Regions from separate parts of the Homo sapiens genome. Here region 2 is linked to region 1. Evidence: fine-mapped expression QTL. A gene starts in region 1. The other region holds a variant in brackets. All regions are shown on one strand. Distances are from middle to middle. Region 1 holds the start of ASXL1 (ASXL transcriptional regulator 1). Region 2 overlaps KIF3B (kinesin family member 3B).

Evidence for each region. PIP is the estimated chance that this variant, and not a neighbour inherited with it, causes the effect. A credible set is the group of variants that fine-mapping cannot tell apart.
Region 2: its variant is the best candidate, but not a certain one, in a credible set for the expression of ASXL1 in whole blood (TOPMed, PIP 0.74).

What each region holds. Positions count from the first base shown.
Region 1 is chr20:32,352,996-32,363,961 of GRCh38, reverse strand. It overlaps ASXL1 (ASXL transcriptional regulator 1), which reads right to left and starts at 5,631. Exons shown (of 13, transcript NM_015338.6): 1 at 5,130-5,631. The coding sequence starts at 5,186. RefSeq lists silencers at 4,932-5,091, 5,332-5,381, 8,330-8,399.
Region 2 is chr20:32,293,497-32,304,462 of GRCh38, reverse strand. The region is part of intron 1 of KIF3B (kinesin family member 3B); the gene reads right to left. Among named protein-coding and RNA genes, the nearest start is that of KIF3B, 21 kb to the right of the region's middle. The variant C/T (reference allele first, on the strand shown) is at 6,582.

The DNA.
Region 1 (10,966 bases):
GGTGCTCACTGGCCTGGCATATGGAACCCTCACAATCTGGTCTCTGCCTCTCTACCCATCCACAGTGACACTCTACAAACTTTATGTTCCAATAATTTGTAGATATACCTAATTCCCACACGTTGCAAATACACACACTCCCTCTCACCCACTCTGACTCTTTCTCTCCTGCTATGTGTTGTCACCAGCTCCTGCTTATGCCCTCTGTGATTGGCCTAACTCCTAGTTACCCTTCAAGATTCAGCTCAGAAAGCACCTTCCTCCAGGAAGCCTTCCCTGATCTCTGCCAGGCAGAGGTAAATGTCTCTTTTCAATGTTCCCATTGTTTCATAACACATACAATTATCTTCCAAACCAGGACAGTTGAGAGTGAAAGGAGAAACTATGACTAGACAAGAGGCAGCAACTGGGATATCTGTTTATGATTTATACAACTATGATAACACGTATCATGACTGTAGTAAAATTCTGTTCCTGCGTCTGGACCTTCTTCATCCCCAGAAGACCATAAGCCCTGAGGGGCAAACCTTATCCACCTCTGTATTCCAAGAACCTAAGTGCCAAGATGGGCAGTACTGACTTGAACAAACCTACAATAAACCCTGGAACAAGCTACTAATGTTCACTGCCACAGATAACATTTCTTTGATACTAATTAAATGAAAGCTGAGCTGGCGAATTTTTATATCTTTTTTTTTTAAGAAGCATGACTCAAATAGTAACTACCAATTATTTAAACAGCAATCAGAAATAGCCTGAGAATTTAAGACAGGGGAAACAGAATCTCTAAAGGGAAGTTACATCAAAAGATACAAAGTATTCTTTTTTATTAAAACTGTTTATGCCTCCAGCTCTTGGTATAAGAACAAGTCAGCAGTGTTCTATTCCTAGTCTCTTTCTAGACTACATTTTTTTTTTTAAGTATCTCTTCTCTTACTTCAAAGGGGAAAAAAATGTTTGATGTAAGAACTGGTCAGTCATGAATCAAAGTAAAAGATAAAGCATACAACAAAGAGTTTCTCGAAGCCAGGGAGAATCCATTTAGCGTCCTCGATTTAAAGGGAAATCCCCTTGGCTATTTCTCCCAAACAAACTGTTTATAACAAGTTGGAGGATTTATATCCACTCAACCACATAAGGTCTACTTCTTACACCTAGAAAAGACAATACTACAAAATGTGTGAAAGAAAGACTATTTTTCAACAGCATAATTAACATCTGCAAAAATCAATCTCCTGGGGTACACTATACTGAAATTCTTAAGAATCTTCTTTCCTCTACGAAAGGTTTTTTTGTTGTTGTTGTTTTGTTTGTTTGTTTTTGAGACAGAGTCTTGCTCTGTCGCCCAGGCTGGATGGAGTGCAGTAGCTCGATCTCGGCTCACTGCAAGCTCCGCCTCCCGCGTTCACGCCATTCTCCGGCCTCAGCCTCCCGAGTAGCTGGGACTACAGGCACTCGCCACCACGCCTGGCTAATTTTTTGTATTTTTAGTAGAGATGGGGTTTCACCGTGTTAGCCAGGATGGTCTCGATCTCCTGACCTCGTGATCCGCCCGCCTCGGCCTCCCAAAGTGCTGGGATTACAGGCGTGAGCCACCGCGCACAGCCTACAAAAACAATTTTTAAAAGGATTCCCAGTAACACTCTAGTCACCAATCTGAGTGGGGTCAGGAGCAATCTGAAAGCGTTCCCATGGAAGTGCATACAATTGCCATTGCAAGCACTCCAAATTCACCTGCCCAAAGAGAAGTGTTCAGGTGTTCTAATCAACTGTCCTACGTTCCCTCCTAGTCAAGTTTCTCTCAGTCCAGTGTACGCTCTCACAAATTCTCCAGTACAGTGTTACAGCAACTTTTTTTAAACATTAAGAGGACTGGTTTTTTCTTTTGTTTTGTTTTTGAGACAGAGTCTCACTGTCGCCGCTGGAGTGCAGTGGTGTGATCTGGGTTCACTGCAACCTCCACCTCCCGAGTTCAAGTGATTCTCCTGCCTCAGCCTCCCGAGTAGCTGAGGTTACAGGCATGCACCATCACCATGCCTGGCTAATTTTTGTATTTTTAGTAGAGACGGGGTTTCACCATGTTGGCCAGGCTGGTCTCGAACTTCTGGCCTCAGGTGATCCGTCTGCCTCGGCCTCCCAAAGAGCTGGGATTACAGGCGTGAGCCACCGTGCCCGGCCTGGGACTCTTAAAAAGTTCCCCCTCACCTACCATCCAGTCCCATTCAAAGAAATGGAAAATTCTAAAACAAAAAACACACACAAGATACTCAAATTGCATATCACATTCTCAACAAGTCCTTTTTCTTTTTTTCTTTTTTTTTTTTTTTTGAGACGAGTCTTGCTCTGTCACCCAGGCTGGACAGTGGCATGGCCTTGGCTCTCTGCAACCTCCACCTCCCAAGTTCAAGTGATTCTCCTGTCTCAGCCCCCTCAGTAGCTGGGATTACAGGCGTGCACCACCACACCCGGCTAATTTTTGTATTTTTAGTAGAGACTGGGTTTTACCTTGTTGGCCAAGCTGGTCTAGAACTCCTGACCCTGTGATCCACCCACCTCGGCGTCCCAAAGTGCTGGGATTACAGGCGTGAGCCACAGCGCCCAGCCTCATTATTTTTTTAGAGTCAGGGTCTCCCTCTATCACCCAGGCTGGAGTGCAGTGGTACAATCAATCATTGGGCACTGCAGCCTCCAACTCCTCGGCCTAAGCTATCCTCAGCCTCCTGAGTAGCTAGGACCACAGGTGTGTACCACCATGCCCAGCTCATTTTGTTGCTGTTGTTGTAGAGACCGGGTCTATGTTGCCCAGGCTCATCTCGAATTCCTAGCCTCAAGTGATTATTCCACCTCAGACTCCCAAAGTCTCGCAAATCCTTTTTCACATGTATAACAGCACCACAAAGTAATTCCTACTCATAGGCTGGGCGCGGTGGCTCACGCCTGTAATCCCAGCACTTTGGGAGGCCAAGGTGGGCGGATAACCTAAGGTCACGAGTTCGAGACCAGCCTGACCAGCATGGAAAAACCCCATCTTTACTAAAAATAAAAAATTAGCCGGGTGTGGTGGCAAACAAACGAAAAACAAACAAACAAAGTAATTCCTATTCATATTACTATTTTTAATGAAGAGCCTTAGAAGAAAAAGAGGAATAACTTACCCTGATAACCTGGCTTGAAGTTGAGTCAATGATAAAACAGAAATAGCAACCTCGATGTTGAAGTTCAGACCACGGTAAATTCGAGAATCTAAAGAGACTTAACAGTGGACCCCAAATTCCTAAAGTCAACTAGTAAGAGCCAACAGAACTTTGAGACAAACAGATTTCATAATTCTGTCAAGACATAAATAACACAAGACTTAAAAGTACTTTCACCTACCTCTAACAAGTAAAACTCTGGCAAGCAAATTTCCTTGGGTGCCCAGGGTCATAAACACCCGCATAACAGGAACGCCAAGGAGAATGTCAATGAACACACAAAACTCATTGTCGAGGAGGAGAACGAGAGCTCTCTCCCACTCCCCATCAGGCCTATATTTGTTTCCAGGTGCAGAACCGTTAGAGAAATCCTGAAATTTCTACAAGATCCTGAAAACTAGCCCAAGCTTCCAATTTTGACTCAATCAGAAAAAAAATATTTCGGAACCTCAAAATCTTCAAACTTCACATGCCAGGCCAAAATAAACTGAAGCACAAAACTTCAGCATACAAACAATTGCTATTTTTGTTCCCTGGGCAACAAATGACTAGGGAAGAGGATAGCAAGCACCAATGAAAATTCTGTAGCCCAAATTCCTTCAGTTTTTATAAATCTGTAACTTTTACAGACTTCGAGAAAGAAAAAGGTGTACTTCAGGTTTGTGTCAACCCCCCCAATACAGTCTATTTTTTTTTTTTTTGCACAACACCTTTGAAGCAGAAAACTCACTTCAAAATAAGAGAGAAAATTAAGTCTGAGCTTCACTCATCATTAAAACTGAATTACAACCATTACATATAAACTACAGTGTCAAGAGACACTTATGCTATCCGCACCACAACCTCGCTGTGTGACAGATCTTAGGAACTGACATCTTAGTATAACCTGTTACTACTGGTATCAGCAGATAATTACCCGAATATGTCTCAAAGTGTCTGAGCTTTGTGGGAGTAATCCAAAAGGAAGCTATTTCACCTGCAAGTCCTCTGACGCTCTGAACACAAAATTCACAACCCCCATCGGTTGAACGAGACGGCTTCAAACACTCAAGTTACGCTCTCCCTTGCTAAATCCTCAGTGAACAACGTCTCCCAACAGAGATACTTTGTCTTTGTCCAACATACATTCTTTGCAAAGTGGATTCAGTTCTCCTCAAAATACCAATTTCCAGTCCAGCTTCTGAAGGCAAACAGCCCAGTCTGCGTTTCTCAAAGTGGGGTCCGTGAGCCACTGCGTTTGAATCACCTGGGAAGCTGGTGAAAGCGCAGATTCCCAGGCTCTATCCCAGACCCTGAGGCTCAGCAGGTCTTACGAAGGGCCCTAGGAGTAGCGTTCCTAACCGCCTCCCAGGTGTCGCCCACAGGACACTAAAGTTAGAGAACCGCTGCTCAGGGTTCAAGCTGGGAGTAAGCACTTGCTTCCCTCCACGCACCTGGTTTAGATTGGGAAAGCTCAACATGCCATTGGCGTCCTTGAATGTGGGGTCGCTTTTCCACCCCCGGAGTCAAAGGCACCACCCCATTACCCACCAGGAAGCGAGGGAGGAGCTTCCGACCCTTCCCGGAAACCCAACTCCCCCGGGTGAATGAACGAAGCTGCCCCAGACCCCCAGACGCTGCCAAATAGTGGGGGAGGGGACGCGGGACCCCGCTGCCCAGAGTGGGAGGAGCCGGCCTGCCAGCTCGCCCCTCCGCCGGAATTTAGCTGCGCGGGGCGGGGGGGGCGCGAGGGCGAGCGGAAAAAGGCGCCACATCCCATCCCGGCGGAGCGCTCCCCACCCCTCGCCTTGCGGGGCTGTCCCGTTCTTAAAGGAAGATGGCCCCGCCCCCTCCCGCGGTGGGCAGGGCCTTGCCCCTCCCCCCCCAGTGGGGGGGTGCGCGGCGAGCCCCCCCCACCCCGGGCCCCACGGAGCCCCCCTCGGCTGTCCGCCTCACCAGGCGCGCGGCCTCGGCCCACGTGCGCTCCTTCTTCTTCTTCTGTTTGTCCTTCATCCTTCTCCCCGGCGGCGGCGGCAGCTCCACGCGGGACCTCCGGGCTGGGCGGGCTGGGGCGGTGGCGCGGGGCTGGGGCGGCGGCGGCGGTGGGGGGGGCGCGTGGCAGCGGCGGCGCGCGAGGTCTCGGGTGCGGCCGGGGAGAAGGGGCGGGCACGCGGGGACCGGCTGGCGCGAGAGCGGCGGTGGGGGAGGGGCGGCGGCGGCTCCACGCGCCCGCGCTGCGTCAGTCGCCCACGGCGGCAGCGGCGGCTGCCCCGCGATCGCTAAGGAATGCGGCGGCTCCGCATAACCACGGGGTCAGAGGTCACGGCTCCGGCCTCCGCTTTCCCGCTCTGCTGAGGGACTGAGACAGGACCGACGGCGGGGCGGGAGGGCGAGACGCGGCTTTCCCTTCGGCGCCCGGGTGCGTGCGTGTCTGCCGTGGGTGTGTGTGAGTGTGTGTGAAGAGTGAGGAGGGGGAGTGTGGGGTTTTTTTTTTTTGAACAAAAACAAACCGAAAGGGCGCCTGGGAGTCGTAGTCCCAACGGCCTCTCTGGCCTCCCCCGCTCCGGAAGAATATGGCCGCGTGAAGCGCGTGGACCACACTTCCCGGCGTGCCCGGCGGCCCCCTTCCGCTCTCCCTCTCGCGTCCTCCGCCTAGCACCGACCTCAGCTAGGAACGGGGACGGGTCGCTGTTCGGGGAAGGGGCTGGGTGGAGTCTCGCGAGGTGCGAGAACTGGCTGGGGGCCTGCGGGATTCTGGGAGGCGATGCTGGGAAGGGGCGGTGGCTGGGCTCCCCCGGCCACCCTTAACCCCTTCGGTGCTTTTTGCTTCAGGACCTCCTGGCGGGTGCGGGTGGGGAGTGAGGATGGGGAGCTCGACTCGCAGTTCCCACTTCGTGCTTCTCCTCGCCTAAACGGTTCTTACCTACACTTCTCGTAGGGGACGAGAGGCAGGACTTTCCCTTTTGGTCACCTCTAAATGACTCACTGCCACATAATAATGAGACAAAAAGACCCTCATACCAGTAAAACGGTTATTCCACGGCTGATGGACTTAGACGGTTCTTCATTTCTTCCTGTGCTTTCAGGCCGCTGTGTATTTGCAGAGCCTGCACCAGCAGCCTAGAGCGTTCTTAGGAACTTGGTGATATGTTGACGGGTCGTGTAAAGAACTTGGACTCTGGGGCCATACTGACCAGAATGCACCTGAGGGCGTTTTTAGAGGCAGTACCCTGGAGAGAATTCAGGCCCTGGAGTCCAGCGGACCTAGACTGGAATCTTGGCTGAGTCACTCCCTGGCTGTCCACTCAACCTCTCTGAGCCTCAGTTTTCTGATCTGCATTTGTCTTGTATTTCATGGCATTATTGGAATTAAAATTAACATACAATTCTTGACAGATTGGAAGAGGATGTGAAGGGAGATCTTGACATTATCAGGTCCGTATGATATGGCGCCTGGCATAGAGCAAATGTTTAATAAATGGTAGCTGTTATTACCAGCTGAGAAACAATAGGCAATATACTTAGCCTCTCTGAGCCTTAGTTTTAGAACCTGAAATGAAATTCAGAGCGCCCAGCACATAGGTTTTCTGTAACTATAGGTTCAGTCGTTGTCCAGAAACATTTCTAGAGTCCGTCCGGAGTTGGATTGATGCCAGCTCTTAAAAACTATGAAGGCAGGATCAGTGGCCACATTTAAACGGTTTCCCTGGGTGAGGAAACACACTCTCCACTCCCTAATGTTAACACGTAGCGAGAGCCAGTATTGATAGGAGACCATTATGGTGTAGCCCAAACTCTAACGCCAAGGGGTTCAGTGTTTTCTGCTTCTAATACTGGTCACAGAAAACTTGTGAGTCCGGTAAGCAAAATCCTACAAAGGGAAAAGACTGCAAGTTAGAATAAGACACCTCTTAAAAATCTCTCTAGCTTTACCCTGAGAGAAAGGAGGAACTACTGTCCCTCAAAAAACTGTTTGCCTTGATTTTTTACAAAGGATTTTTAACTTCTTTTTTTTCAATCTACGGCTGATACAGTACTCTTTGGCAAGTCATTTGGCTTCTTTCCGATGTCTTCTGAAGTAGCTTTACTGCCCTCTGACCTACAGGGAATAACTGAAATTTACATGTTTAATACAGGTACTGTGGTAGACAGAATAATGTCTTCCCCGCTTGCCCAAAACTGTCCAAGTCCTAGTCCCTGGAACCTGTGAATATGTTGCTTTTTTATTTATTTATTTATTTATTTTTTGAGACAGAGTCTCGCTGTGTTACCCAGGCTGGAGTGCAGTGGCGTGATCTTGGCTAACTGCAACCTCCGCCTCCTGGGTTCATGCGATCCTCCTGCCTCAGCCTCCCAAGTAGCTGAGATTACAGGCATGCGCTACCATGCCCAGCTAATTTTTGTATCTTTAGTAGTGACTGGGTTTCTCCATGTTGGCCAGGCTGGTCTTGAACTCCTGACCTCAGGTGATCCACCCATCTCGGCCTCCCAAAGTGCTGGGATTACCAGCCAGCATTCTTTGGCAAAAGATATTTTGCCAATGGAAATAAAGCCCTTAAAATTAGATGATTCCGTATTATATGGGTGAGCCCAGTGTAATCACATGAACCCTTAAAAGCACAAAAGGGAGGCAAAAGAGATGTTTTGGAGAGATGAGGCAGAGGAATTAAATTCAAAGTATGAGAGGAATTCAACCCACTGTTACTGGCTTTGAAAGTGGCCACAAGCCAGGGAATCCAGGCAGCCTCCAAAAGCTCAGAGGAAGTCCTGCCAAGAGCCAGCAAGGAAATGGGGACTTCAGTCCTACAACCTCACAGAGCTGAATTCTGACAAGCTGAATGAACTTGGGAACAGATTATACCCCCTCCCCAACTCTCTAGAAAGGAATATAGACACCTTGATTTCAGCCTCGTGAGACTGGAAGCAGAGAATCAGCTGAGCCATGGAATCCAGACGTCGGGCCCACAAGAAGCGTGAAACAGAAATGAATATTGTTTTATGACACTAAATCTGTGGTAACTTCTTACAGCCCCAAAAGAAAGCTAATACAGGCATTATGGAAACACCTTTATTTCTTTCAGCGAACACTGCCTGACTTCAGCTGGGTCAAACCATGGGGGAATCCAGATTTGAATATTTCAAGGTCTCTGCCCTTGCAGAATCAGACAGAAACAAGTGACAACATCGTAGTTAAGTGTGAAAACAGTATGTTCAGAGAACGGTACAGATATGTTAGAAAGTTGGCTTTAGTCATTAAACCTTAAGTAGATGTGATTTTTTTAAAGTTAATGAGATTCATGAGTTTATTTTCTTGTCAGAAGCACCAACAGACAAACCTATACATTTTTGGTGTGTGTTTTTCTGTTTTTTAATCACAGTGCTTTTATTATAGATTATCTTCAGAAGTTAGTGCAGGTGGCATGTGGAAGATAAACAGGACAGACACTCAACCCTGCCTAGTTTGGGGATGAGTCACTTTTCAAACTGCACAGTTATAAGCAAAGTGCATATTCAAGAACCAAGTTAACAGGCCACCAGCAGACACCCAGGAATTCCCAAAGGGACACATATATCCCATAAACTGCACTGCAAGATAATATATTCTCATTGGCTCTGCATGTCAGCAGGCCTGGGTTTGAATCTCTGCAGTCTTTCTCCATCCAGTTCTGTGGCCTTGGGCAAGTTATGAAACCTCTCACTGACTCAGTGCCGTCATTTGGACAGCAGGGTACATAGCAAATTCAAAGAATGGAACTGAGATTAAATGAGATCTCTGTAAAGTGCCTAGCACATAGCAGATACTCACTAAATACCAGCCCTCTTTGCCTCCAAAAAGTTTTAGTGTCTAAAGTGTAAAAAGTGCCTCATTGTTTATACTTTGAGTGAAAGAAACCTTGGAACAGGGTTTGCCCCTGTAACAAATGTTCTCTCTCAATAATATTATCCCCGTTTTCACATGAAGCTGAGATTCAGAGAGGTCAGATTACCTCCCTTGGGTCCAGATGATTAAATAAGATTACATTTGCTAAATAAACTTCCAGCATAGCAGATGATCAGTACATGTATAGCTCTCCTTGTCCCTCCCACATTTAATTTATTTGTGTGACTTTGGTTTAGTGATTGTGTTCATGCTAGCATCTTTGGTTTCATCATCATATCCCCAGTGCCTGGCACAGTCTTGGCACATGGTAGGCACCCAATCTGTTGAATAAATGACCCGATCTCCGTAATTACTTTACTGGAGAAACTCTGAAGACTAATTTCCCTTTGAGCCCTAAACAATGTTTGGAACCTGCTCAGGGAGAATCGGGAAAGACCAAGACAGGATTTCACCCAAATATATCTATGCAAGTTATAAAGATGCTCATGGATAGAGAGCATGACTTCAGCTGGGCGTGGCAGCATGTGCCTATAGTCCCAGCTACTCAGGAGGCTGAGGCAGGAGGATCATTTGAGCCCAAGAGTTTGAGGCTGCAGTGAGCCATGGTTGCGCCATTGCACTCCAGCTTGGGTGACAGAGCAAGACCCTGTATAGGAGACTTCATGACCTTATTATTGTCATTAAGTCACAGAATCTGCCCATGTGATGGGCAGCCCTAACTCATAGCTCACCTTCCATTCACCATCGTTTAAATCCTGCTGTTCAGTCTCCCAGTAGGGAGGAAAACGTGTTTAAATTACCAAAATGTCTTTTTCGTTTGTTTGAGACAGGGTCTCTCTGTTGCCTACACTGGAGTGCAATGGTGCAATCTCAGCTTATTGTAGCCTTGACCTCCTGGGCTCAAGTAATTCTCCCACCTCAGCCTCCCAAAGTGCTGGGATTGCAGGCATGAGCCACTGTGCCTGGCAACAAAATGTCAATAATGGTTACCTCTGGGTAACCATCAGACTATGGCAACTTTTGATTGTCTTTTTTTTTTGAGACAAGGTCTCACTCTGTCACCCAGGCTGGAGTGCAGTAGCATGATCATGGCTCACCGCAGTCTTGACCTCCTGGGCTTAAGCCATCCTCCCACCTCAGACTCCTGAGTAGCTAGGAGTAGGTAGGGCCACAGACACATCCCACCACCCCGAGCTAATTTTTTTTTTAAATTTTTTGTAGAGACAGGGTCTCGCTATGTTGCCCAGGATAGTCTCGAACTCCTAACCTCAAGTGATCCTCCTGCCTCGGCCTCCCAAAGTGCTGGCATTACAGTTGTGAGCCATGGACATATTACCTTTTGTTTTTGAGATAAAGTCTTGCTCTGTCATCCAGGGTGGAGTGCAGTGGCATGATCTTGGCTTATAGCAACCTCTGCCTCCCAGGTTCAAGCAATCTTCCTACCTCAGTTGGTGGGATAACAGGCATGTGCCACAACACCAGGTTAATTTCTGTATTTTTAGTAGAGACAGGGTTTCTCCATGTTTGGCCAGGCTGGTCTCAAACTCCAGACTTCAAGTGATCTGCCTGCCTCAGCCTCCCAAAGTGCTGGGATTATAGGCATGAGCCACCACGCCCGGCCCATATTACACTTTTTAATTGAAAAAAATTCTTTTTCATTTCAACCGCAAAACATAGAACATTTAGATTAAGGTAGTAGCTATGGGTAATATTTTTTCTTTTTTATATTTGTATTTTCAAAACCTAGAATTAGTATGTGCTACTTTTATGATGGAAAAACAAATTCCATTCTTAATGCAATATACCTCAACAATGTGAAAACAACTTTAATAATTATTAATATTTTTATTTTGCTTAAAAAGATTTGTGGGACCCCCTAGAATGGCCTCAAAGGAAGGATAACCTGAGCTGC
Region 2 (10,966 bases), 59 kb after region 1:
AAGCATCAATTCCTAGAAGTGGAATTGCTGAATCAAAGGATATATGCAATTGCAATTTTTAAAAAATATGCAGAACAATGACAGCAGTATTCTTTTTAGTTGTGAGAATGACTTATTTCCTGCCATTCTCCCATGGTGGGAGAAGGTGAAGCAGTGATGGGCCACTTGGGCATATATGCTGTGGCTTAATAAATAGACAGCATCAACATATTCCCCCACTGCCCTTCACAGACTGTTCTGCTGCTAAGCAAGTGGAAACACAAAAAGTTGCTTTTCATATTTCTTCTAGTTGTTACATGTAATAAAATATTATTGTCTAGAATGAAGAAATCCAGAAGACGTCTTACCCTCTCTGAACCCGTTTTCTGTAAATCTGAAAAAATAGGTATAATTCTTCTTTCTTATGGATGATTATGAGACTAAGAGGTGCTTATAAGGGTGGAAGTACTTTGTAAACTAATACAAAGCTAGATTAAAATAACAATACAGATTCATCCAAAACCCTTGTCAGAGGGTCATTCCAGAGATTAAGGATGAGGCCTAATTTTATGCATTAAACATCACTAGAATAACATTTCTTTTTCTTTCTTTTTTTTTTTTTTTTTGTGAGACTGAGTTTTGCTCTTGTGACCCAGGCTGGAGTGCAATGGCACAATCTTGGCTCACTGCAACCTCTGCCTCCAAGGTTCAAGCAATTATCCTGCCTCAGCCTCCCGAATAGCTGGGATTACAGGTGCCCACCAACACACATGGTTAATTTTTGTATTTTTAGTAGAGATGTTGGCCAGGCTGGTCTCAAACTCCTCATCTCAGGTGATCCACCTGCCTTGGCCTCCCAAAGTGCTGGGATTACAGGTTTGAGCCACTGCACCCAGCCTAAATTAACATTTTTTTTTTTTTAACGGAGTCTCGCTCTGTCACCCAGGCTGGAGTACAGTGGCATGATCTCGGCCCACTGCAACCTGTGTCTCCCGGGTTCAAGCAATTCTCCTGCCTCAGCCTCCCAAGTAGCTGGGATCACAAGCACCCGCCACCAGGTCCAGCTAATTTTTGCATTTTTAGTAGAGATGGGGTTTCACCATGATGGCCAAGCTGGTCTGGAACTCCTGGCCTCAGGCGATCCACCCCACTCAGCCTCCCAAAGTGCTGGGATTACAGGCATGAGCCACAGCGCCCACTCTAAAATAACATTTCTATTGTTCAGTTTGTAACAATCATCCTAAAAAAAATTCAGATTAAATTGAGATCTAAATACCTAATTGATGTTCAATAAGAACTAAATCTCAAGCCGTGTAAAGAAAACTATGCAAAAGGAAGCCCTTCAGGAATGTAGTCATTATCTTCTAGATCAAGGGTGTCCAATCTTTGGCTTCCTTGGGCCACACTGGAAGAAGAATTGTCTTGAGCCACACCACACATAAAATACACTAACACTACGATGGTTAATGAGTTAAACAAAAAATTGCAAAAAAAATCTCATAATGTTTAAAGAAAGTTTACAAATTTGTGTTGGGCCACATTCAAAGCCATCCTGGGCCGCGGGTTGGACAAACTTCTTCTACATGCTATTAGAATTTTGCCAGATGGGAAGAAAGAGACAGATGTTAGAATGGCCAGTTTCCTGCGTCTTTTCATTTCAGGGGAATGGCTCATGAGCTACGGCCTGTCTCTCCCTCCATTTCAACAGACGCCTGCCAAAGCTGATCTAGGTGCAAAGGGAAAATCCCAGCCCCTGATATCCTCTGGGAAGACCTCTGTTTCAGTGCACGAGCCTGCCAGACAAGATCCTAGACCTGATAGAGTAAGAGAAACAGAATGGCAGGGCAGGACAGGGAGACAGGTCAGTGCAGAGGACTGATTCTTCTGCATTACAGACTTCTGAGAAGGCGGAGCTGTCCGACTTTTACCTGTCAAAACAATGGGGCTCCAAGCCTATGAAAGAAGAAAGAAAGCCTGCAGCAAGCTGACCTTGAGGTTCAGCTGCTTTGTAATAGCTCCATATATTTTTTGAGCTCTCCAAAATGATAGAAACAAAGGAATGATAATGACCTACATTAATCTTAAAAATCTTTAAAAAGGAAGGAATTCCCAAAGCATGAGTCCCCTTAATTAAATCTCCTCAACTCTGAACACAGAACACCATTTCTTTTCTGAACTCACCCAGCTAGACTGAACTAGTCATGTATTATTGACATATTCTTTCAGGAAAATGGACTAAGTTAATTTCCTGCCACCAAGGCTTAAAATCTTATTCTGGGTCTTCCTCAAAGGAGAGAGTTTTCTTGGAAGGATGCCCTGATACTCTTTCTTTATTACCTTTGTTATTCTTCCAGTGGGTCTAATTAGAGTGATAAATCTTTAAAGAAACTCACAGAATTGCCAGGAAAGAAGGAAGCACAGATCAGCAGCTCATCGCCTTCATCCTGAAGACCTTTTCTGCTAGAACTTGTCATTCAATGTTAACACCCACTGTTTGAATGGTTATTGAACATGAAAAATTGAGTAATTCCCCAACCTCAACTCTTTTATCTGCTGAGGAAATCAGATGCACATTTGTCACGGCAGTCACACTCTTCCAGACCGTTCTCCAACTCTTTTGTGTTTAGATTCACGCATCCTCACCTTGCTAGCTGTCATAGAGTCTCACCTCAAAGTCCAGAACTAGGTATGAATTGGATTCTCAGTAACTATTGGCTTCCTATGGAAAGCGTAAGAGAGAGGTCACAAACTGGTTACATTCTATCTAAAACATTTCATTTGGCCCACCTGGTATTTAAAACAACATGGGCCTGGCATGGTGGCTCACATCTGTAATCTCAGCACTTTGGGAGGCTGAGGCAGGTGGATCACCTGAGGTCAGGAATTCAAGACTAGCCTGTCCAACACGGTGAGACCCCGTCTTTACTAAAAATACAAAAATTAGCTGGGCATAGTGGTGGGCGCCTGTAATCCCAGCTACTCGGGAGGCTGAGGCAGGAGAATTGCTTGAACCCAGAGGCAGGGTTTGCAGTGAGCTGAGATCGCGCCATTACACTCCAGCCTAGTTGACAAGAGCAGAACTACGTCTCAAAAATAAATAAATAAATAAATAAAACATGGGCTGGGCACAGTGACTCACACCTGTAATCCCAGCACTTTGGGAGGCCGAGGCGGGCGTATCACCTGAGGTCAGGAGTTTGAGACCTCGTCTCTACTAAAAATACCAAAATTAGCTGGGTGTGGTGGCATGTGCCTGTAGTCCCAGGTACTTGGGAGGCTGAGGCGGGAGAATTGCTTGAATCCAGGAGGTGGAGGCTGCAGTGAGCCGAGATTGCGCCACTGCACTCCAGCCTGGGTGACAGTGAGACTCTGTCTCAAAAAAAAAAAAAAAAAAAAAAGACCATGAAGCGTGGGCAACATAGGAAGACCTCCATCTCCACCAAAAATTTAAAAATTAGCAGGGCATGGTGCCGCTTGCCTGTGGTCCTAGCTAGTCGAGAGATTGAGGCGAGAGGATCACGTAAGCCCAAGTCAAGGCTACAGTGAGCCATGATTGCACCACTGCACTCCAGCCTGGTGCTAGGTCTTGCCCTGTTTCCAAAAGTAAAAATAAACAACAACAACAACAACAACAACAACAACAAAATCCTCAGCAATTCCACTTCTCTATCTATGTATATCCTAGTAAAAAGCTTTGCATATGTGCACAAGAAAACATGGACAAGATTGCTTCCTGCAGCATGGTTATCACAGTAGAAAAACTAGAAACAGGCTGGATGCAGTGGCTCACACCTGTAATCCTAGCACTCTGCGAGGCCGAGGTGGGAGGATTCTTTGTGGCCAGGAGTTCAAGACCAGCCTGGGGAACATAGTGAGACCATCTCTACAAAAAAATTTTTAAAAATCAGCGGGTGCGGCGGCTCACGCCTGTAATCCCAGCACTTTGGGAGGCCGAGGTGGGCAGATCACAAGGACAGGAGATGGAGACTATTGTGGCTAACGCGGTGAAATCCTGTCTCTACTAAAAAAATACAGAAAAAATTGGGGGCGTGGTGGTGGACGACTGCAGTCCCAGCTACTCGGGAGGCTGAGGCAGGAGAATGGTGTGAACCTGGGAGGCGGAGCTTGCAGTGAGTGGAGATCGCACCACTGCACTCCAGCCCGGGCGACAGAGAGAGACTCTGTCTCAAAAAAAAAATTTACATTTAAAAAATATAGCTGGGTGTGGTAGAATATACCTGTAGTCCCAGCTTCTTGGGAGGCTGAGGCAGTAGGATACCTTGAGTCCAGGAGTTGGAGGTTGTAGTGAGCCATAATAGCCCTACTGCACTCCAACCTGGGTGACAGAGGGAGACACTATCTGTAAACAAAACAAAACAAAACAAAACAAAACAAAACAAAACAAAACAGGCCAGTGTGGCGGCTCTCACCTATAACCCCAGTACTTTGGGAGGACAAGGCAGGAGGATTGCCTTAGTCCAGGAGTTGGAGACCAGCCTGGGAACAGAAGGAGACCCCATCTTTAAAAATTAGCCAGGCGTGATGACACATGCCTATAGTCCCAGTACTTGGGAGGCTGAGGCAGGAGGATTGCTTAAGCCCAGGAGGTTAAGACTGCAGCAAGTCAGGATCACACCACTGCACTCCAGCCTGAGTCACAGAGGAAGACCCTGTCCCAAAAAACAAACAAAAAAAATCTAGAAACAACCTAGACATCCATTTATAGGGGAATTGAATAATAAAATATGATATATTCATATTATAGACAATATGGCTGGGTGTGGTGGCTCACGCCTATAATCCCAGCACTTTGGGAGGCTGACGCCGGAGGATCATCTGAGGTCAGGAGTTTGAAACCACCCTGGCCAACATGGCGAAACCCTCTCTCTACTAAAAAATACAAAAATTAGCAGGGCATGCTGCGATGCGCTGTAATCCCAGCTACTTAGGAAGCTGAGGCACGAGAATCACTTGAACCCAAGAGTCGGAGGTTGCAAGCGAGCTGAGATTGCGACACTGTGCCCCAGCCTGGGTGATAAAGCAAGACTCTGTCTCAAAAAAAAAAAAAAAAAAAAAAAAATATATATATATATATATATATATACACACACACCATTCAGTAGTTACAAGTTATAAGGAATAAATTAGAGCAGAGGTCAGCAAATTACAGTCCAGGATACAAATCTGGCCCAGAGCCTGGTTTTGTAAACAAAGTTATATTAGAACAGCAATATTCCTTAGTTTACATATTATCTACTGCTGCATTAACTATAGAGGTGAATAGAGTTGAGTAGTTGCAATAGAGACAATATGGACTACAATACTAAAATATTTACTATCTGGCCTTTTACAGAAAGTGTTTGCCAATCTCTGAATTAGGCTTACAGATTTAACATGGATAAATAAATAGGCTGAGTGAGAAACAAAGCTGCAGAGTGACAGTTACGATTAGGAATTTACAAAAAAATACGGTGCTCATGGATTTGCATTTATGTATGTATAAGTACTAAAAAGTGGGATAGGATGGGTGCAGTGGCTCACACCTCTGTAACTGCAGCACTTTGGTAGGCTGAGGTAGGAGGATGATCACTTGAGTTCAGAAGTTTGAGACCATCCAGGGCAACAGAGCAAGACCCTATTTCTACAAGAAATGAAAATTAGCCCAGTGTGGTGGCCTACTACCTACAGCTACTCCAAAAAGGTGGAAGGATCACTTGAGCCCAGGAGGTGGAGGTTACAGTCAGTCACGATTGTACCACTGCACTCCAGAGTGAGACCCTGTCTCTGAAGAAGGGAAGGGGAAGAGAGGGGAGGGGAGGGGAGGGGAGATAGAAGGATATATAACAATTTATGACAGTGGCTGCCCAAACTGGGCAATGGGAAGTATGGATAATGGGAGTAGAGATGGGAAGGATATTTCAACTTTATCTGTAATACTTTATCCTTTCTCTTAAAAAACAAAAACAGGAAGGTTTCAAGCTTTATAACATTTCCCTTACTTTGCTGATTCTATTTCTTATATTATTCTCTGAATTTTTGTTTTGTTTGTTTTTTGAGATAGAGTCTCACTCTGTCACCCAGGCTGGAGTGCAGTGGCGCAATCACAGCTCACTGCAACCTCCGCCTCCCTGGCGATTTTCCGCCTCAGCCTCCTGAGTAGCTGGGATTACAGGCTCAGGCCGCCATGCACAATTAATTGTTGTATCTGTTTGTAGGGCTGGGTTTTTGCCATGTTGGCCAGGCTGGTCTCGAACTCCCAGCCTCAAGTGACCCACCCACCCTGGACTTCCAAAGTGCTGGGATTACTGGTGTGACATTGCACCAGGCCTGAATTTTTTTTTTTAATTCAAAAAAACAACAATTTTTTTTTTTTTTTGAGACGGAGTTTTACTCTTGTCCAGGCTGGAGTGCAACGACATGATCTTGGCTCACTGCAACCTCCGCCTCCCAGGTTCAAGCGATTCTCCCCGCTTAGCCTCCCAAGTAGCTGGGATTGCAGGGATGCGCCACCTTGCCCAGCTAATTTTGTATTTTTTTAAGTAGAGATGGGGTTTCTCCATGTTGGTCAGGCTGGTCTCAAACTCTTGACCTCAGGTGATCTG[C/T]CCGCCTCAGCCTCCCAAAGTGCTGGGATTATAGGCGTGAGCCACAGCACCCGGCCTAACAATTTCATATTAAAAAAAAAAATCCACTTCTCTGGAAACATGGGAATATCTGACAGCCCTTGACCTGAACCCCAAGTGGCAGCAATAGGAATCTTCCCCAACCCCACTATCTCCTGTTTCATATCTAGCATGCTTTGCTCATTTATACTTCCTGGCTGGCTCTTGTAGACATCTCTGTCTATGACCAAATTCATATATGTATGATTTGATTAAGAAAGGCCCGACATACTAGCCCATCTTTTTAAATGCCATTTGCCGAGGCTCTGTAATGACATGGAAAATGCTTATCATAAATGAAAAAGCAGTTTACAAAATTGAATCACTGCATGCAATCACAATTATATAAAAATAAAGACACACGTAAAAACATCAATAGTGGTCAACCTTGGGTAATAGTATAGGTGATTTCCCCTGCTCTTTCAACATTTCTGTATTTTCCAAATTCTCTTTAATGAGTATGTGGTATCTCCAAATGGGAAAAAATAGAGGTCTGGCAATTCCCCAGGAACAACCCTGCAAGGAGGTGCAACCTGTGGGCACACAGAGTGCATACTAACGCACCTCAAATCAATGCATTCCAAAGCAATGTCCTCTAAGATCAGATCACGCAACCACCTGCCAACTGCCTGGCCCAGGGTTCAAATACTCAGAGTATCTGAAATGCAGCCCAAGCCAAAGATCACATGAGCCATCAGAAAAGCACTGCAACACTCGAGCAAGAAGTAAAAGCGACTCCCTGCTAAGCAGCCTAAACCAATTCCCTGGACAGGCTTCTCTCGGGGGAAGCAGCTGTTTTTACTCTGTATCCACCTCATCACCATCAACACTACTCCTTTTTACAATTATTTCTAATTGTTTTTGAAGTATCAGGACTCCGTGTTTGCAATCCCTGAACCACACCATGAAAGCAAGTCCAATTCTAGGTCTCTGGTTCCTATGATGGCCAGTTTCACAAAGGGAGTTACACACTTTTTAAAACAAGATTATCCATCTTGGGTTGAAAAATAACACCACTGTCCTGCAGAACTTTTAAAAAGACGTTTTATACATATTGAGAAAATGGTTCTACATTTGCTTATATGTGCATAAAATATATCTGAAAGAATTCACAAGAACCATGTAACAATTGCCAGATAACAACACTGGCTTTCCCTAAAAGAGCTAGGTGGATGAGGGCCAAAAGTAGAAGAGAAACTTTTCATTATATACCCTTTTTTTTTTCTTCAGACCGAGTTTCACTCTGTCACCCAGGCTGGAGTGCTGTGGTGCAATCTTGGCTCACTGCAACCTCTGCCTCCCATTCAAGCGATTCTTGTGCCTCAGCCTCCCGAGTAGCTGGGATGGCAGGCACCCACCATCACACCGAGCTAATTTTTGTATTTTTAGTAGAGAAAGGGTTTCGCCATGGCCAGGCTGTTCTTGAACTCCCGGCCTCAGGTGATCTGCCCACCTCAGCCTCCCAAAGTGTGTTTACCCTTTAATATCTCTTGAGTTTTGAATCATGTAAATATATTACTTAGTCAAAAAATAAAATAAAATCAAGGGGAAAGAGAGATGGAAAGGCTTTGTGAAATTAAACAAATATACAGGGGTTACTCATTTTTCCCATTTTATCTATCCATTTGTGCTGACCACCATGAATATAAGATAATAAAAATGGGCCGGGTGTGGTGGCTCACACCTGTAATCTCAGCACTTTGGGAGGCCGAGGCGGGTGGATCACAAGGTCAAGAGATCGAGACCATCCTGGCCAACACGGTGAAACCCCGTCTCTACTACAAGTACAAAACTTAGCCGGGCGTGGTGGCAGGCAGTTGTAGTCTCAGCTACTTGGGAGGCTGAGACAGAAGAATCACTCAAACCCGGGAGGCAGAGGTTGCAGTGAGCTGAGATCATGCCACTGCACTCCAGCCCAGGCGACAGTGCAAGATTCTGTCTCAATTTAAAAAAAAAAAAAAAAAAAAAAAGATAATAAAAATGTTTTAATTGATAAATGAGGGGACCTACTAGGAGACCTAAATTCGGGACCTACTTATCCTAAATTTATGATGAAGCTTCGTAAAACAGTTTCTATTAGGTCCACAGCACTAGAATTTTTAACTTTCTAAGGTAAATGTAGCAAGTCATGCAGTGACGGCTCTAAAAAGCATTTAGAGCATAGACGTCAAATAAGAAAGTAATGAAATATATTCTGTTGTTATTACAGGCATTATTTGTAAACATAAGGTCAGCCAGGCGTGGTGGCTCACACCTGTAATCCCAGCACTTCGGGAGGCTGAGGCGGGTGGATCACGATCTCAGGAGATCGAGACCATCCTGGCTAACACGGTGAAACCCCGTCTCTACTAAAAATACAAAAAAATTAGCTGGGCATGATGGCGGGCACCTGTAGTCCCAGCTATTCAGGAGGCTGAGGCAGGAGAATGGTGTGAACCCGGGAGGCGGAGCTTGCAGTGAGCTGAGATCGCACCACTGCACTCCAGCCTGGGCGACAGAGCGAGATTCTGTCACAAAAGAAAAAAAAAAGGGGGCGGGGGGCGTCACCTTTTTTGTAAGCCAAACAGTTGCGTGAACTGTCTAAAAAGTTTCAAAATGTCCCTTACAGAAAGAACATATAAGAGCCACAGCATCTCAAATTGGCACAACATACTTGAGGGCAGTCAGGCAATCAGTACCAAAACTCTAAATGTGAATACTCCCTTGAAACAGCAATTCCATTTCTTGGAATTATTTTAAGGACATAATTGAGTAACTAAATACATGTGCAACAATGTAATACACAATTTGTGTTTGTCACATCACCACCTCTAAGCACTTAAATGCTCATCAATAAGGGAGTGGTTAGATTATGGCACATCTCTACAATGGGAAACTATGAAGTCATTAAAAATGGCAACAAACCTCTAGGTATTTAGATATGGGCAATATTCAAGACATATTGCTGAGTGAAGAAAAAGGCTACTAAACAGAATTACTATGATACAGTTAATGTTTATGTGTACAGGCACATGTGCAGATGCAGATTTGGGGAACACAGAGTAAAGACATTGTTAAAAGCATGAGCTGAGGTGTTCAGCAGGTCTGGCTTTGAATTTCTGCTCTGCCATTTACTAGCTATAAAATCTCAAGAAACTAAGTCACAGTTTCTTCTTCCACCAAGTATGGTTAATAGCAATATCTCCCTTAAAGAACTGTTCTGAGGATTAAATAAACTAATGAATGTTAAATGCTTAGCTTTTAACATTGAAAAGTACTAATAAATACTCATGAAATGCAGGTAATATTGACCTCTAGGGTGGTGCGCCTGCAGGCTATTTTTTTGCTTTCTTTGTATTTTTTGATGGGTGCATGTATTTTGATTTTTATAATTAAGGTGGGGGAAGCAATAAAGCAATGTTTTCTTTGGAGAAAAGTCCAGAACTTTGATTTCAGCTTAAATGTCTGAAGAAGACACGCTAGTTCTCCGGAAAGAAACCTAAAAACGTCACAGTCAAGTAACAAGGACAATAAATGCCTGCCCTGAATTCAAACTGGCGCCATGTACTCTCTGTCATTTGATGACACAAAGAGGCAAACAAAGCATTTATTTAGGCAGGGAAAGAAGAAAAGAAACTCTTTTTGGCATTCAATTGTAAAACATAAAATACATTCAAAAATATATTCAAGTCTGTTGGACAACACCTACTATTCAGAATCAATGCAGTTCTTGGGTTTTATTGTATTCAATAGTCACAACTCACAGTATACCAAGAGCTTAATGTGAGTCCTCTTTTAATCCTCAAAATCACCTTGGGAGGAAGGCAGGCATTAGCCTCATTTAAAGAATAAGGATCAGAGACTCAGGGAAATTAATTTGCCCAAGGTTACACGACAATTAAGTGGAAGAGTCAGGATTCAAAACCAGATTTGTCTTATTTTAAAACCCATATATAAACCCATATATTTTTAAAACACCTGATATATACGCATATATACATGTGTATGTCTATGCAAAGATTAACGCAATTCAAGCTGTACAGAGTGTACAGTGAACATGTAAATCTTCCTAACATATCTGCATTGCTCCTTCATCTTCATCTTTTGCTTTTAAACCTTTTTAACTCAAGTAGCAGTATACTATATACCACTGTACTTCTTCCTATATAAATCTTGGAGAACTCCTTCTCCCCGCCCCCCAACTCATTTTGTGTTGTTTTCTTTGTTTGTTTTTTTGAGACAGACTCTTGCTCTGCACTCCAGGCTGGAGTGCAGTGGCATGATGTTGGCTCGCCATAGCCTCAACCTCCTGGGCTCAGGTAGTCTTCCCACCTCAACCTCCTCAGTAG